3 linked regions of the Homo sapiens genome follow. The protein of the gene in region 1 interacts with the protein of each later gene in a pairwise test. Each region holds a gene or a part of one and is shown in the gene's direction. Other genes may lie near its edges.

Evidence for each region. Proteins that work in one complex are often made in the same cells at the same time.
Region 2: the proteins of NF2 (region 1) and TNIP3 interact in binary tests that used the Homo sapiens proteins (3 or more experiments, as listed by UniProt).
Region 3: the proteins of NF2 (region 1) and NEBL interact in binary tests that used the Homo sapiens proteins (3 or more experiments, as listed by UniProt).

Annotation. Positions count from the first base shown.
Region 1 is NC_000022.11:29,690,633-29,697,632, forward strand, and holds part of NF2 (merlin), read left to right. Parts: intron 1-4,119; coding exon 4,120-4,170; coding exon of another isoform or gene 4,171-4,177; 3' UTR 4,178-7,000. UniProt on the Homo sapiens protein: Probable regulator of the Hippo/SWH (Sav/Wts/Hpo) signaling pathway, a signaling pathway that plays a pivotal role in tumor suppression by restricting proliferation and promoting apoptosis.
Region 2 is NC_000004.12:121,161,304-121,169,136, reverse strand, and holds the start of TNIP3 (TNFAIP3-interacting protein 3), read left to right. Parts: upstream 1-4,815; 5' UTR 4,816-4,990; coding exon of another isoform or gene 4,991-5,011; coding exon 5,012-5,077; intron 5,078-7,833. UniProt on the Homo sapiens protein: Binds to zinc finger protein TNFAIP3 and inhibits NF-kappa-B activation induced by tumor necrosis factor, Toll-like receptor 4 (TLR4), interleukin-1 and 12-O-tetradecanoylphorbol-13-acetate.
Region 3 is NC_000010.11:20,779,455-20,782,341, reverse strand, and holds the end of NEBL (nebulette), read left to right. Parts: 3' UTR 1-2,369; downstream 2,370-2,887. UniProt on the Homo sapiens protein: Binds to actin and plays an important role in the assembly of the Z-disk. May functionally link sarcomeric actin to the desmin intermediate filaments in the heart muscle sarcomeres.

The DNA of each region.
Region 1 (7,000 bases):
TCCTCAGAATGGAATTGGATTAGTGACAGACTTGAGCAGCCGGTTCAGTCGAGAGAGAACTTAATTCCTCCTGTGTTATTCACACGGCTGATTCTAATCAGATGTGAAGAGACAGCTGGAGGAGAGCAGCGGGTCAGCCCATGCCTGGTGCGGAGGCTTCATGTTCTTGTAGGCATCTTCAGGGAACTGGCAGGAGCGCTTTGGGTTGGAGACTCTGAGCAGGGCCCTTGGGTTTATAGCCTGCCCAAGGAACTGGGCCTGGCTGCGGGACTCCCATGGTTGGACCTTGTCTAGATTCAGTGAAAGTTTTGAAGGACAGTGCATGACAGACGTCACTGGTCAGGTTCACCAGAGCTTGGCTCACTTGTCTTCAGAAGGATTCAAAGGCAGTTGACCAGACTTGGCAAGTCCCAGACTGGTGCAGCCACTGTCCTCGAGACCCTGGTTGTACACCCTGAGGTGCTTCTGCTTCATTACCTGCTGAAATTTGGAGACCTCTTCTTCCTGGATAACCTTCAAGATACTCATTGTGCATGCGAGGAATTCCCCGCCCTCCTGGGGGGACTCCACTCCCCAGGCAGGCAAGGTTGGGCAAGGGGAGGGCTGTTGCTGGATTGCCAAAGGGAGCATGGACATTTTTGTTTGGAATTCAGGGTGGGAATGGGACTCACCAGAGTGGCTTCAGTGCTCAACTCACAGTGCAACATAGGACAAGGTGAAGGCCTTCTTGGGAGGCCTCTTCTGGCTCTAGCAAGCAGGTGTTGCTGGGCAGTGTAGAGGGACCCAGGCCGGTTGCTGAGCAGGAAGATGTACCTAACACTGATGGGCCTGCACACCTTAGGGTATGAGAGCATCGCAGGGGAACCAGGAAACTTGTTAGCTGGTTTTCATGTGTTTAAAAAGAAGACTCGGAGGCAGAGTTTATTTTATGAAGGGCTAGCTTTTTGCCATTTCTTCTGAGCTTTTGCCTTTTCCTTTATGAATACTTCCTGCCTATGGGTGTACTGTAAATGTAACAGCCAGTGAGCTTTCTAGAAGCAGCAGATGGTGAAAGATCCACAGGTGAGGAGCCTGCCCACTGGAGGGGCGAGACAGTGCCCAGGCAGGGCGTGCAGGTGGCAGAGCTGTTTGCATGCTCCGCGGGGTGGCTTCCCAAGCTCTCTGTAGAAAAACTGCCTGAGGGCAAATGGCTCCACTGAGCTGCTACCTGCAGGAAAGAAGCTCAAGGGCTCTCCTCGTCTCACTGCCTGCCTTCTTCACCTGCTGGGAGGAGGGCATTGTGGTGTCTGAGATAAAGGATACCCCCAAGGTGGAAGCAGAGCCATGGGGGTGGCCTCCAGCAGCAGGGAGGAGCATTGTGCAGTAAATTCTGACTCCGGGGCTCCTGTGGGGATTGGAACCCATAGGAATTGCACAATGAGGGTAAAGGATGGGGCGGCAGCAGCCAGGTCTGTCTAAGGGGCGAGCAGCAGTGGCCGAAGGCTCCCAGGGCCCTCGGGCAGCAGCCCTTGCTGACCAGTGCAGCCAGGTCGTGGCTGCCTCCAGCTGGTGGGTCTGCCTTCCCCTCTGACCGCCTCAGTGCCTTCTGGAGGACTGTGGCTCTCTCTCCTGCCCAGTGGCTGTGGTGCCTTCCTACTTCTGTGTGGGCAGACTGATTTCCCTCTCTACCTTTACTTGTGGCTGAGGCGAAGCTCCTGCTCTTGCAAGATAAGAGGTGGGGCTGAGGCGCTGCAGTGCAGCTCAGGTGGGGCTCAGGAAGCACCCCACCCACCCCAGAGCACTCTGCATCCTAATAAGCACATGCTCGAGTCACTGGAATCTGGTGCTGCTGGCAGTGCCAGAACCCTCCCCTAGCACCTCGAGGGGACAGCCAGCATGCTCCTCGGGTGGAGGATCCAGGAATTCTTGGAGCCAACATTGCACAAATGGGCAGGAGCCTCTCAAGGCCCCCACAGCCTGGGCTCCCTGCCTGGGGAAGTGGCCAGGCTTCATAGGGGCATCACTTGGCCCGCCTGGTAGGCATGGAGGCCAGTGCCATACGTGACCTTGTTGTTGCCTGCACCCCTTCCTAACGAGCACCCTGCTCCCCACTGGAAGGAGAGGGGCCAGGGCTCCTCCCTCCCCAGGGAGGGGAGAAACGTGATGTTGCTATTAGCAATAACAGCTGCCGAGTTCCCACCATGCGCCAGGTGCAGTGTTGAGTGCATCACACGCGGTTCCCAATTCCTCTGCCTGTCACCCCACGAGGAAGGGGCTGCCATCACGCCCGCTTCACAGTGAGGAACTGAGGCTAGAGGGGAGCAAGTGACCTGCCCAGGGCCACACAGCTGGTCAGTGGCCCAGCTGGGCCTTGCACCAGGCAGCTGACTGTGCCTGTATCTGACTCAAAGTGGCTGTTCTTTTCAGAAACCTGAGCGGAGATACTGGGCTCACATGCTTTCATTTAAACCCTCTCTCATTTTTGCCCCAGTAGTTATCTGGCAGCTAAATCTCTTCCTCCTTTCTTCCCCAGTGACCATTCTGGTTCCCATCATCACAGGGCACATAACTCCTGGCCCTTCTCCTCTGATTACATTTAGGGAGAAGCCCATCCTGATGCAGCTCCCTTCTAGAGGGAGTTCCATTTAGGCAAAAAAGCGCTCTCCATTCCCATCAGAACCGGGCTTTCCAAAGGGCTCTGAAATTGGTTCCACTGAAGAAGGCAGCTGAGCTGCCTCCCCACATTCCGCTTGTTAGTCGGGAACTTCAAGGCCAAAAGATTTGGCAGGATTTAAAGAGTTGCTCTCAAGCTGTCTCATTCTGAGCACACTAATGCTGTCTGTCTTCTGATGGTGAAGTGGTGGGTTTGGAGTCTCCCTCCCCTGCCCTTTATGGAGCCGCCGATAGTACCGAGGACTCTTCACATGCAGACTCGAGGGGTCCAGAGAATGGGCCAGACCATCTTGCCTGCCCCATGGCAACCTCCAGAGGAAAGAGGCTCAGAGAGGTCAGGGGTGTCTGCAGTGAGCTGCTGATGGCAGAGAGTGAGCTCTCGGACCTTCTCAGCCGGGTGTGGAGCTCTTGCCTCTCCCGCGAACCTCAGTTTAGTTATCTTCATAGCCCACGTCCTGGTCGCTTAACAAACATTGAGCTCCTGATCGGCACATAACACTAAGCCAGATATTTGGGGGATATGAAGATGAATGGTACAGACTCCCTCCCCTCCACCCCCGCACTCCTGTGGGAAGTCCCGGAGCTGGAAATGGAACACAGTCACACCCAAGGCATTGATTTCAGGAGTCAGCAGAGAGCAGGGAGTAGGGAGAGTGCTGGCTCCAGATGCTTCTATCCAGGGAGATGCTGGGAAGTGGCCCAGAGTCAAGGGCTTAGGAGGTTGCAAACCTCACTATGCCAAGAGCTCGGTCCCTGATCCACCCCATCCCCTTCCACATCTCCCTGACTGTCCTTCTTTACATTTGCTGGGCAGAGTGCCACCTGTGTGCACCAGCCCTCCCTGCCTGCACAAGCCACACTGAGAAAGCCGTTGCCTCCAGCTCATGGAGAGAAACACCTTCTCAGCTGCCACGTCATGAGCAAGTTTGCTTCGGGACCACCTGGGAAACCAGGAGTAGAAGGGGTAAACTCTTCCTCATCTGCCACAGGCCTGCCTTGCCTCAGGCCACGTCACCTTACCCCAGCCATGTTGCCAGGGCATGAGGACTAAGATGCTTGCCCTGCCAAGCCCGGAGGGGATGAGCAGCCTCAGCTGGTGCCGCCACAGACAGCACACCACAGAGGTGGCTCAGGGACCTTGGTAGATGGGAATGTGAGAATCTATTAAAATAGGCAGGGATCTCCGGTCCTCTGTCAAGAGGCAATGCTGACGGCTTTTTCCTGCTGGCGTGCCTCTGCCCACCAGCCTTCCCCTTGCACATCCTCATTTGTCACCTCCTAATTTGAATTATTGGGCAAATCTGGCCGCTTATTTGGGACTGACAGCCAACTTCTTGAGCATCTATTTGAACAGCCTTCCCTTTCGCTCCCAGCCACCTTTGAGGTGAGTCCAAGTGGCAGGACAGGACCCTGTGTGACAGAGCGGAGGTCTTGTGCCCTCTCAGCTTCTTCTCTGCTTTCTTACAGCTCACCTTGCAGAGCGCCAAGTCCCGAGTGGCCTTCTTTGAAGAGCTCTAGCAGGTGACCCAGCCACCCCAGGACCTGCCACTTCTCCTGCTACCGGGACCGCGGGATGGACCAGATATCAAGAGAGCCATCCATAGGGAGCTGGCTGGGGGTTTCCGTGGGAGCTCCAGAACTTTCCCCAGCTGAGTGAAGAGCCCAGCCCCTCTTATGTGCAATTGCCTTGAACTACGACCCTGTAGAGATTTCTCTCATGGCGTTCTAGTTCTCTGACCTGAGTCTTTGTTTTAAGAAGTATTTGTCTTCCTTTGTCTAATGTGGGATTCCTGACTCCCTTCGTCCAAGGCACCGGTGTGTGTGTGTCTTGCACTCCAGAGCTGACCTCCACCGCCCAGCCTGGGAAGTCATTGTAGGGAGTGAGACACTGAAGCCCTGAGAAGCCAGTGCCATCATCCCCACCCCGCCCAGGGTTCCGGAACATTCATTCCCCCACCGGTGAGGACCTGGCATGCAGCGAAGCAGCCCAGCCCGGCGGATCCCAGGCCAGCACGCCTGCCGGCTTCTCATCGTCAGGGAGCCCGCCCAGAGCTCGTGACGAGCAAGTGCTGGGTCCCCGCCAGGCACCCCGAGGCGGCGCTCTGGCTGGCAGCTGGTGGGGAATAGGCAGGGCAGCTGTGGCTGGGGAGAGACTTTAGGCAGAAGCTGTGATGCAGGCTGACTGCCAGCCGAGGGGCTGGGTAGTGCCGTGCGGGAGCTGATGGTACAGGGCACTCGCTGTCCCCCTCCGGCCACCCTAGACCAGGGTCCGAGAGGCAGGCAGGAGCCACTCATGTCTTCCCCATTGCCCGACGCCCATAGACGCTCCTTCCTGTGTGGGGCTGGGGTACTCCCTGGTCGTACTGCAGTCAGCACCCGTAACCCGGCTATGACCAGGGATCTGTAAGCCCTGTGGCTCCACAGGTGCTGCTTCTCACTGGCCCAGACTCTGAGCTCCACCGGCCCAGTCTGCACGGCCCATCTGCTTCACCTTCCCTCCCAGCCACGTGCCAGTGGCCACAGCCCACTTCCCAACCCACTGTTGTACCCAGGCCTCACTTTGCTGTTGCCCTTGTCCCTCTTCGGGCCCTGAATTTTCTGTTCCCTGGGGGCCAGCCAGGGCCCTTTGTGCCCCTCCCAGCACAGGCCTGATGCAGGTGTCCACTCACAGGTGGCGCTCACCTAGGCTGTCACAGGACCCACCTCCATGCCAGGCAACAGAGGGCCACAGAACCACCCCCACGGCTCACTCCTTGGTCTGGGGCCACCTTCTTGCCCTTTCTTTTTTTTTTTTTTTTTTTTTTTCCGAGATGGAGTCTCTCTCTGTCACCCAGGTGGGAGTGTGGTGGCACAATCTCGGCTCACTGCAACCTCCACCTCCTGAGTTCAAGCAATTCTCCTGCCTCAGCCTCCCAAGTAGCTGGGACTACAGGCATGCACCACCACACTTGGCCAATGTTCTGTATTTTTAATAGGGACGGGGTTTTGCCATGTTAGCTAGGCTGGTCTCAAACTCACACCTGGGATTACAGGCATGAGCCACTGCACCCAGCCCCTTCTTGCCCTTTCTTTTCTCCATGGCTGATGCTGCTGTGGCCAGCCAGGGCCCTTGAGATCCTTCCAGTTTGGCTGTTATGCAAAGCAGGTGATTTGTCTTAATCAGATAAAAGATAGAGGCTATGGGGGCCTCAAGATTTTTGGAGAGCAGAGGTGGTCTCTGGCAATTCCATCTGGTTTTGAGAAACTTAGCAGCTCACAGAGCACAGAGATCCTGCCTTCTTCCTACTATCAGGCTGACCTAATGGGGTTGGGCTGCTCGGCAACTGCTTGGGTCACCTTGCCCCAAGGAAACCAGCCCTGGGTGCCACCCAGCCACTTAGGGTCTACAGGGTGGGACTCCAGACCTAGAGCGTAAGTATGGATGTTGTGGCCCTGTGTCTTCCTAGTGTGACCCAGCCAGGAGCGGAAGCTTCAGGCGTTTGTAAAGTGAGGTCTGGCTCTGCCTCCTCCGTTTTTTTTTTTTTTCTGTTTCTGTTTCTGTTTTTTTTTTGAGATGGAGTCTCGCTCTGTCGCCCAGGCTGGAGTGCAGTGTCACGATCTCAGCTCACTGCAACCTCCGCCTCCCAGGTACAAGAGATTCTCCTGCCTCAGCCTCCCGAGTAGCTGGGACTACAGGCGTGTGCCACCATGCCTGGCTAATTTTTGTATTTTTAGTAGAGATGGGGTTTCGCCATGTTAGCCAGACTGGTCTCGAACTCCTGACCTCAGGTGATCCTCCCACCCCGGCTTCCCAAAGTTCTGGGATTATAGGCGTGAGCCACCATGCCCGGTCTCTTCTCAGTCTTGAAGCCCATCCCTGGATTTCCACCAGGAGTTACTTTCCTCCTGACCTGTAAATTTGTTCTTTAACAATGGCTGCAGGTGGGAGCATATGGTGGTTTATAAAAACGCTGTCGGGCTTTGTTTCCTTCTTTAGCTGCCGTGTCTACTTCTGAAGTCTGGGAAGTGCCAAGCCACGCGGCCTCAAGGGAGCTGGCTGGTGTTTGAGCTGTGGCAGAAGCACCTGGGGCTCCAGGGAGCAGGCTGGGAACTGCAGGACCTTGCTCAGCCAGGAGCACTTCCCCCTCCTTGAGGCAGGAATACTGAGGTGCCTCCCCACAGATGGAGAAGGTGGAGAGGAGGATGGGCCTCAGGAGCATCTCAAGCCCCAGTAGCAGGAGAAAGAAAGAAAGAGATGCCTGGTTTTCACAGACTGGTTCCTGTGGCTGGGATGACTGCATCCTTTTTTTTTTTTTTTTGAGACGGAGTTTTTGCCTTTGTCGCCCAGGCTGGAGTGCAATGGCGTGAT
Region 2 (7,833 bases), on another chromosome or scaffold:
ATGGGAAGCCACTGAAAGGTTCTGAGCAGTGGAATGACATGAAATGACATTTTAAAAGTCTCACAGTGGCCACTGTGTTAATAATGGGGAGGGGGGAGTGGAAGCAAAAATAGAAGCAGGAAAACCCTTAGGTTATTGCAGTAATCCAGCTAAGAGATGATGGTGAGTTGGTGTCATGCAAAAATGCCAATCATCTTGCCCAAGGTCACATAACTAGCAAGTGGTGGAACTAGGTTTGACACACAGTCAGAGATCAGTCACTGCTGGACACGCTCTTAAAAATGTTCCTATGAATAAAATCAGGAAGCAAATATTAAAGTCCTCATTTTGAAAAAGTTATTAAAAGGCATTTTTTTTGAGAAGCTGTGGTGGGAGGATCATTCAAAGCCACGAGTTCAAGACCAGTGTGGGCAATATAGTGAGACCACATCTCTACAAAAATTTAAAAGATAAAAATAGCCAGATGTGGTTGTACACACCTGTAGCTACTCAAGAGGCTGAGGCAGCTGGATTGCTTGACCCCAGGAGTTGGAGGTTACAATGAGCTATGATTGTACCACTGCACTCCAGCCTGTACTACAGAACATAACTCTGTCTCTTAAAAAAAAAAAAAAAGCAAAGAAAAGAAAAAAGAAAAAGGCTGGGCATGTTGGCTTATGCCTGTAATCCCAGCACTTTGGGAGGCCGAGGCGGGTGGATCACAAGGTCAGAAGTTCGAGAACAGCCTGGCCAATATGGTGAAACCCTGTCTCTACAAAAAAAATTAGCCAGGCATGGTGGTGCATGCCTGTAATCCCTGCTACTTGGGAGGCTGAGGCAGGAGAATTGCTTGAACCCACGAGGCGGAGGTTGCAGTGAGGCGAGATTGTGCCACTGCACTCCAGCCTGGGTGACAGAGCGAGACTCTGTCTCAAAAAAAAAGAAAAAAGAAAGAAAAAATGGTAAGTTTATTTCACCTTGCCACTTGCTTATTAAACTGAGAAGTCTCTAGGCTTTTGTGGCAATGTGCTCCTCCCCTGTCTGGATATATTTTCAAAAAGCCTACAAAATGTTCAGATAGATTGGATGCAGGATGTAAGAGAAAGAAGAGTCAAGGATGACTCCAAGATTTTTGATCTGGAGAATAAAAGGTGTTATTAATTGTAACAGGGAAGGCAAGTTTTGCAGGGAAAATCATAAACTAAGCTATCCTGATCAAACAGGTCAGGTGAAGAAGGAGGTAACTATTATGCATACAAGCAGAGATGACAATTAAGCAATTAATACAGGAGTCTCGAGTCCAGGGATATGGTCCATTCCTAGTGCCCCTGGTGAACTGAGTGCTAAATATTCTGATTGTCACAAGCTGTTAAAATAAATATTTTGAATATTACTTTTGCTAATGTATATTAACTGCATTGCAGTTTCCAATCTCTCCCATTTAATACATGATGAACTAAAACCAATTAAAAAACCACTTTGATCATGTAATTCCTTTGCCCAAAGGTCTTTAGTAACTCCATATGGCCTATAAGGTCAACATTTCTTAATCTGAAATTAAAATCTTTTATGATTTCATCCAAATAAACTTTGAAAATACCACACGGACCCTACTCTAGGTAAACTGGATTTGTCAGAATCCTTCATAACTAGGCTTGCCCAGTTGTGTTCTGTTTCTTACTGTGCTCCCTTTGCAGCATTTATAGCTCAGCTTTCACTCTCTGTCAAAATCCTATCTACCCTTCAAGGCCCAGCAGAAACTCTGACTCTTTCCATAGCTATTAAAGGTGATAATGAGCACTCTCTCCTCTGAATTCTTACAGGCTTTATTGTCTCTATCATTCATTTCCTGGTCTTCATTTACTGTTTAGTTTTTCAAATATATATATATTGACATACACACAGCCACACACACATATGTATGTGTGTGTACATTTCATCATAAGCAGGGAATTTTTGCTTTTGTTTTCCTTTGGAACCCACACAATGTCAAGTACAGGGTGAGTGATGCATAAATTGTGGATTTCCCTTTCCTTTTGTCATGTTATTTGTTTCATAAATAATTTGATTGATGGTCCTATCTTTAAAACCAAATTGTTATTACTATATAAGCTCAGATAGCAACCCTAGGAGAAGGATACTATTACTATCCCATTGTATAAAATGGAAATTGAGCCTTAGAGACCTTAAGCATCTTAGATGACCAAAGGCACAAGCAGTGAGTGGCAGAGCCAAGCTGTGAGTCCAGATAATCTAATTCTAGAGCTAGATCTTTTAGTCATTACTAATCCTCTCTTTCCTACCTACATAGCACATACACTTAAAAATTCATGCAAATAGATTCAGGAAACAAAGAAGGTTTTTCAGCTCCCATTGTAAAAGCATAAAAAGGAAAAAGGCATGTTTCTTTTACCTGCCAAAGAATGCCTCCAATAACTTATAGAAATATAGTACTCTCCTCTTGGACTAATTTTAAGATAATTATTGTCCACCAGAATGATGGTTATAGACCAGTGACTGGTAGTCCTTGTTCCTTTACCACATTTCCCTTTGTTAATTTTAATTTTCTTTCCTCTGTATAATATTTTAGTGACTTCAGAAATGAAGACTCTTCACAACAGCCTTGGAAACATGGAATGACACCTCTGTTTCTCTGAAAGTGATTTCAGCTAGTGATACTTCTCATGAAACAAAGCTTGACTAAAAGCCAGACTCTTAAAATATGTGGCACAATGTGAGAGGGATGGAGGTGAAGTGAACAGAGCATATGTAACAGAAAAGACCCAATTAATTCTTAGGGATGGCATATTGAAAGTCTCATTTTTCTGAAACCAAACTTGTGGCTCTTCAGAAGAGTTATTACTTATTCATAAATAACCATATGGCTCTCTTGAGCTAATAGAAAATCTGTTTGTTGTTTATCTGCATAACAGAAGAGGCAAAGGAATTGTAAAGAAAGAAGCAAAGGTATAGAATTTCCATTTAATAGAAGCCATCACACCTAACAATGTATGTGCATCAGGATATTTTACAGGGGAGACTCAAGAGGCACAATGCCAAGGATGGTATTTCCTGGCAAGAAAATGTTCTTCCCACCCACTTTTCTAGGTCAATGTTACCACATCCCTATACAAATACAAAGTTAAAGCTGAAGAGAACCTTACACTATATAAAACTATGGAGTGTGTATGTGCATGGTATGTTTCAGAAGAAAAATATTCTTACAATAGAGTTTTCTTTTTCTTTTCTGATGAGCAGATTTTAGTGTTGATAAAGTGTCAGTTCAGGAAATCGCTGCTTCTGTACCCTAAAGTCAGATCTTATGTGAGTTATAACTTTTTACTTTCAGAACCCTGAATGAACAATTTGATTCCTACCTGTATTTTTGGATTTTGCCTTAAAGCAGCGTCACTCCCTTTCACTCAAGCGTAGACCCAAACATAACAAGAAACCAGAAGAAAGTAAACACACACACACACACACACACACACACACACAAACTAGCAAAAAGTTCATCGATTTTGTAAATCATTATATAGATATTCATTCATTTATTCATGTAGCAAAATGTGTTGAATGCCTGCTGTGTGCCAGACAGCTCAGTGCCTGGGTGCGTGGACACAGAGATTAACACAAGAACATGGAAATATGTAATCGTAATGCATGATGAAGTGCTCTCCTTAGCTGATTAGAGGAAGTCAAGAGAAGATCAGAAGGAAAGAGAGGCATTGACTTAGGTTTTCCCCGTCATAAGGTTGGATGGAGGGCCCAGAGAGGAGACATCTGAGGTGGCAAGAACAGCATGCACAGAGCTCAGGGGCGTAGAACCATCTCACTCATTTCAGGAAAGGGAGGTCAGTCAGGATGGTTGGAGCACAGGGGAGAGTTGGAGAGTAGGGGGAGATATTCAGGAGAAATGGGAGGGCCAAATGTGGGACACTCAATCACTCTCTTTTGAATTTTAGGAGTTTTAGGCTTTATCCTATATATATGTGAATATCTCGTAGGCAGGTTAATGAAGTTAAATGATTGACCATAAATTCTTTTCTCTTTTTAGTTACACATTCTTTCCTTTTTTGTATTCCTTGCCTCTTTCCTTTTGTTCCAAGTCCAAAATGAGGTCTTCTGTTCCATCGCAGTTCACTTATGCAGCTCCAAGTATCTGCCATTTCCACGCTTTTATCTGTACTACCCAGTAGTGCTCCATTACCTCAAGGCTCCTAAAATGATAACAGTCAAATAATTAAAGTGAAAATGATTCTCCATGAGAAGATTTCACTTCAAATGAGTCATGGAGACAATCTGGACTTGATTTATAGAAAAGACAGACTTAAACTTGAGACAAGTTTAACCTTTCTGCCAATATAGAAGATTAGATTTGCAAACAATGCCCATTTTCTTTACAATGAATTATTTTCCCTTTTATTTCTATAAGAATTAGTGGCACTTATATTATTATGTATTATGAATTATGTATGACTCATTAAGTTCTACCAAGCTACACTCACATTTAGAAGGTATTGCCAGAAAATCTCGCCTTTAGGGAAACCGAGCTGTCAAAAAGTCAACAGTTACCTAATTGCTCTGGGAAATACAATGAATTTATAACAGTTAGGCTACTGAGGAAACACTTGGATTGCCCAGGCTTTCTGTGGTGGAGAACTTCCTCCTCCAGTGGGAGAAACTGCCAGTAAAGGAAGAATGACGATTTACATACTATAGCAAGGCTAATCTGCCCCAGGTCTTAGTCACGGCCTGCCTATTTGAGACATCCTGGGAAATCCCTATTTGGAAGAGAAGAAAAGTTAAAATCCCAGTTGCAGTGCTTATAACTTTATTCTGTGTAATTCCTATCCACAGTCACTTCTGTTCATTTTTAATGAAAACCTATTGCTGTTATTTTCTATTATGAGTTAACGGTGATGTGTGTTTTTTAAATTTTGTATACTTGCTCTCACCCTAAAATATACCTTAAGAGACTTTTCCCCTGTTTTTCTTTCTGCTTTCCAAGACTCCAGGAAAAACAGCTTCCATGGCACATTTTGTACAGGGCACATCTAGAATGATTGCCGCAGAAAGTTCTACGGAGCATAAAGAGGTAAGAACATATTTCTAGGAGATGAGTTGATCACATCTAGCATTGATGGCATTTCTAGTGGTTAATTGTGCACTTATTAATAAGAACAGAAATGGCTAGTTTGCTTTCTTTAGCTAAGATTTGCTCTATATTTTTAACCAAAATTATGTAACATAGAAAAAAATATCTAAGTAACCAGTACATTGCTTTTAACCCACGGGGCTTAAATTCCTTTCAGCCTTCCAGTTCTGTGGGTTCCTTATTTTGTTCTTGATTTTTGTTCTATAAAAATCTTAAAAGAATACTATATTGGTGTAGGTAGAAATAGAACATATTGTAACAATAGAGTATCTGTAGTAATATTTTTATATATTTACAATTGGTACCATAGATTTTGTTCAGCAACAGAGACTACTGCTAATTGAATGAATGAATTCAAATATTTTCTAGTTTTCTTTTACAGATAACCAAGGTATAATGGGAAACTAAATGGAAACTTCTATTCATTTAAGTTTTTAATTTAGTAGCATCAGACCTTGAATATACATTGGTAAGGATGTTATCATAGAGAAAGAAGTGCCCAGATGCTTTGAACAGAAATTCTACTTTATAGGGAATAATTATAGGAAATTATGTATAGGGAATAACTGTTCCGTAAGCAGCCCTTGCTAGAATCAATGACTGAAAATCTTTGTAGTTACTGCAAATCAGATGCCTTCATTAGCAACTGTAAAGCAAAGTAAATACAAATTGAAAAGGTCCCCCAAACCTTTGTATTTGATTAATTTCGCTTTATTTTATAGAAACCTGAGACATATGAACTATAACAAAATGTTGATTAATCTCCAGAGAAAGCTTTGGTGATACATTTGTGACTTACATGCCATTCCTAGTCACTATGTTTTCTATTTTTCCTCCCTCCTATCCTCCCCCACCTATAACTGAATATTACTTATGAATTTCAAAAACTAGTACTCGTGCAGTTACAAATAGAGCCTCTTGCAGATTTGGTATCTAGATTTTCAGTAATTTTTATTTATTAAAGAAAAATCAAGGGTGAAATGTATTATAATTTTCTTCCAGAGAAAATTGTTTATGGGGAAACAAACAAAAAGCACACTGTCTCATTGTTCCACATCTGGGCTCCCAAAGGCAGGGACATACAAATGTTTGCCAATCACGGATTTTTGTCTACATCACAAACAGAGAGGAGACATTTTTGAGGACCCATAATTTATTCCCTAGAATGGGAATATATTGAACTTTAGTATGAATCAAAATTACCTAGGAAATGTATTAGAAATAGAGGTGCCCTGGCTGCTCTTCTAGAAATTCTGATCCATTGTTCAGGATGCTCTATGTTTAGCAAGCTTAACGGTGACTTTGATGTGCTCTTGTGGTGGGAACCACCATTCTAAAATCCAGTCTTACTGTGCCCCTACTTTGCTGATGACCTCAAGATACACTAAGTAGGGTTGGCTCACAGCATTTTCCAGATCAAAGATGCTTAATAGTTAGTCTGTTCTAACCCAGAATGGGTCCAGTTTCTTGGAAGTCTTCCCCAAAAGAAGAAGGTCCAATTACGGGCCCCAACATACTTGACACTTGGGTTTCAGTGTCACTCTTGGTGCTCAGCCAGAACACCTTCTTGAGGTCAAGAGCAAATATAATCATTCAGAATTTATTGACCCACAGAAGACTGTCTCTTTTTAAATGTGGTCTTAATTGTAACATAGGTCTAAATAGGAAGAAGCTAAGGAAACGAGAACATCTCTGCTTACTTAAAATACCATCAAACCCTAAAATGCTGAAACATAAACAAACAGAGAAAAGATAGAAAATACAGTTTTATAAATAATTTCTGATGAAAAAAGGTGCTTGAAATCCCATGATGATTGCAAAGAACAATTTCCTGTACACATTTCTGGCAAAGACCAACAACATGTTTTGAAAATATTTCTTAATGGTTCACAAATAGCTTTAAGCAACTTAGTGATCCACAGTAACTATTAAGCCTGAAACAGATTACAGATGTAGGAATTACTCTCATCATCCAATAAATTGTATTACTTATATGACTCTGAGATGAGATAGTAATAAGACTATTGAATTATTATAGAGGATCCAGTCCTTTATTTAAGTAAATATTGTTCTTAGTCGATTTAGGCAGATGGCAGACAGCTTCCACAGCTTTTGTGTTATCTTTAAATGAATACTCTCACTCCTGAAAAAAATAACTGAAAAGAAAGGTGGTAAATTTTCATTATGCCAGTAATTTATTATTAATCTAAACTAGTAACCTAGTGACTTTATTCAAAGAGCTGGCTAAAATTACACAGTAATTACACAGTAATGGCTGTATGTGTTTGTCTTTTTCTCGATGATTTTGTCGTTCCTCTGACGTTTACTGGGTCTACTTTTCAGAATATTACTCACATACATGTTCATGGGCACAGCTACCAAAATGACTTTTATGAAATGTTTACTATAAAAATACCTAAAATATATCCATGAAACTTACCTGATTTCTGAATTGTCATTTTTTTGGAAAAGGATTGAAATCCAAATTCATAAAATTTTAATCTCTGACTTACCCGTTATAGTATACAGATATATTTATAATTTATTAAAGAATTATATTGGTAACTAATTTATGTAAAGCATTCTAAAACATAATATGAAGCTGACTCATCCACCAGCCATGATGAAGGACTTAGGGTATGAGGATTATTACTGCTAGAATCAGGTATTTTTTAAATCGCAACAGGAGAGTTGGC
Region 3 (2,887 bases), on another chromosome or scaffold:
ATAAAAGATATACCAAAACTGTAATACAGATATATACAAATATAGGTGCCTTTTTGATTACTCTTGTTTGTCTAGTATGCTCTTGGAAAGAAAACCAAGCAAGCAAGTTGCTGCCTATTCTATAGTAATATTTTATTACACATGATTGATATTTTTGTGGTAGGGAAGTGGGATGCTCCTCAGATATTAAAGGTGTTAGCTGATTGTATTTTATCTCTAAAGATTTAGAACTTTAGAAAATGCCGACTTCTTCCATCTATTTCTGAAAGGTTCTTTGTGGATTTATATAGAGTTGAGCTATATAAACATTAACTTTAGATTTGGGATTTAAAATGCCTATTGTAAGATAGAATAATTGTGAGGCTGGATTCACTACACAAGATGAACTTCACTTCATAAATTAATTATACCTTAGCGATTTGCTTCTGATAATCTAAAAGTGGCTAGATTGTGGTTGTTTTGGTTAAGGTGATATGGAGGTGGGAGAGCTTTTAGTTAAGTAAGAAGCTATGTAAACTGACAAGGATGCTAAAATAAAAGTCTCTGAAGTATTCCATGCCTTTTGGACCCTTTCCTCGCAACTAACTGTCAACTGTTGATCAAAAAAGTCAAGGCATTGTATGTTGCTTCTGTGGTTATTATTCTGTGATGCTTAGACTACTTGAACCCATAAACTTGGAAGAATCTTTGAGCAAATTTTCTCAGTTGTCTGTATGACTTCAGTATATTCCTGGGAATGCCATAGGATTTTTTGTGCTTGATACATGGTATCCAGTTTGCATAGTATCACTTCTTTGTAATCCAGTTGCTGTTAAGAATGATGTACTTTAAAGGAAAAGAGAAAACTGCATCACAGTCCCATTCTCCAGTGTCCATGCAATGAATTGCTGAGCATTTAGGAAGCAGCACCAAGTCTATTACAGGCATGGTGTGAAACTTGATGTTTGACCTGTGATCAAAATTGAACCATTGTACAGTTTGGCTTCTGTTTGCTTCAAAATATGTAGAATTGTGGTTGATGATTAATTTGCGAGACTAACTTTGAGAGTGTAACAGTTTTGAAGAAAACATTGAATGTTTTGCAAATGAAGGGGCTTCACGGAATGTTACAATGTTACTAATATAATTTGGCTTTTGTTATGCAAATTGTTAACACCAGCTATTAAAATATATTTTAGTAGAAATGCTTTAATTCATATTTTTTTCCTCTACACTGTGAATCTTTAAGCCTTGGTGGACTAGAGCAACATCGTGCTGCCCAAAGGACTAACCTATGCAAACTAGTTCACATTTTAGTGGATGTCGCAGTTAATGTGTAATAAGACATTATTTCCCCTGCATAATGTACAACAGCATTGAAATGACACATTAAGCCTAGCATCACATTGTATAGTACAGTCACTCACAAACCCTTCAAGGCTACCCTAATCATTAACATTAATATTTGTTTAAAAGCAAATCACCGATTTATCTATTGAAACTACTTAAATGACGGCAAACCAGGAATGACAGATGGCTGTGTCAGCAATGGCTTTAATGTGTTCCCTGCAAGTGGTCTCCTATGATAGAACTGCGTTCTCAAATGCACTCTCTTCAGGGTCTTAATATTCTGTGTTTTCTCTCTGTATTTGTAAAACATTATAACACATTAATTTCCTATCTCTACACATTTGGTTTGCTTAAATAAATGCAGGATATAAAAAAAATGGTTCACTTCTTGGCTCTCACCGTGGTTTCTTGGAGCATGGGTTGTTAGATGCAAGCAATGCACCCTAATAATACCCCGGGTCTGAGATTTAACATGACAACTCACATCAAATCGCATCAGAGGTGTGTGCTGCCTTCAGTGCATTTACATTGGTGAATCAGTCAAGATATTTTCCTCCCCCAAATAAACTTAGTTGTAAGTGATAACAATATTATGCTTCTCCAAGCTCAGTATCTTTCTGATTTTATATCAAAGTACCGCAACAATGCATCATTGTAGTTAATTTATTTCAAGAATAAATTCCTCATATGTCCTCAATAGTACAATTCTAATTTTCTTCTATTCATAAGATGAAAGAAATGGTTTGGAGCATAGAATAGAAAGTGCACAAATTGAGTACATAAAATGGGAAGCAACTGATTTCTCAGCTAAGAAAGGCTCATTTATCACAGAACACAATTGCTTTTCTCCCCCCACTACGCTTCCCATAATTGAAAAAGTGAGTCCCTATTTTTCACACTCATATAAATCTATGCGATTTGGATGCTAGTCTTATTGTATTATTTTGTAAAACTTTCTCTTTGGCTCATAATCCTTCCTAATTGTAAATTGATAAACTTTGCGGATGACATCTGCTCGTAGAATAAACACTTCTTCCAAATATTGGATTTTCTGTTTTTCATATTCCGTAAGTATGAAATGAATATTTTAATAGTATTATGAATCAAGCACACTGTATTTGAAATCACAAGACAGCACAGTTATTTATTTGAAGAATTCACTACCTTTTTTCCCTCTGAGACTTTTTTTTTTTCCATTCGATTATAAATTTACTCTTTGTAACCCAGGCCACAGAGGAAATGAATACCTTAGATTTTTTTTTTTCTGACAAAAAATAATTTAGCTTTTAAACAGACTGTGCTTATAATTTTATTTTCTTAAACATTTGTGAGGTTTTACGGGTAACTATGACATGCGCACCAAACAACTTTTCTACCAAAATAAGTTTCTACAAAAATATATAATAAACTAAAAAGTAGGTAAAAGGGGATTTTTTTTTTTCTTCATATAATCTGCTTTGATATGGTTTGGCTGTGTTCCCACCCAAAATCTCATCTTGAATTGTAATCCCTATAATCTCCATAATCCACACGTGTCAAAGGAGAGACCAGGTGGAGG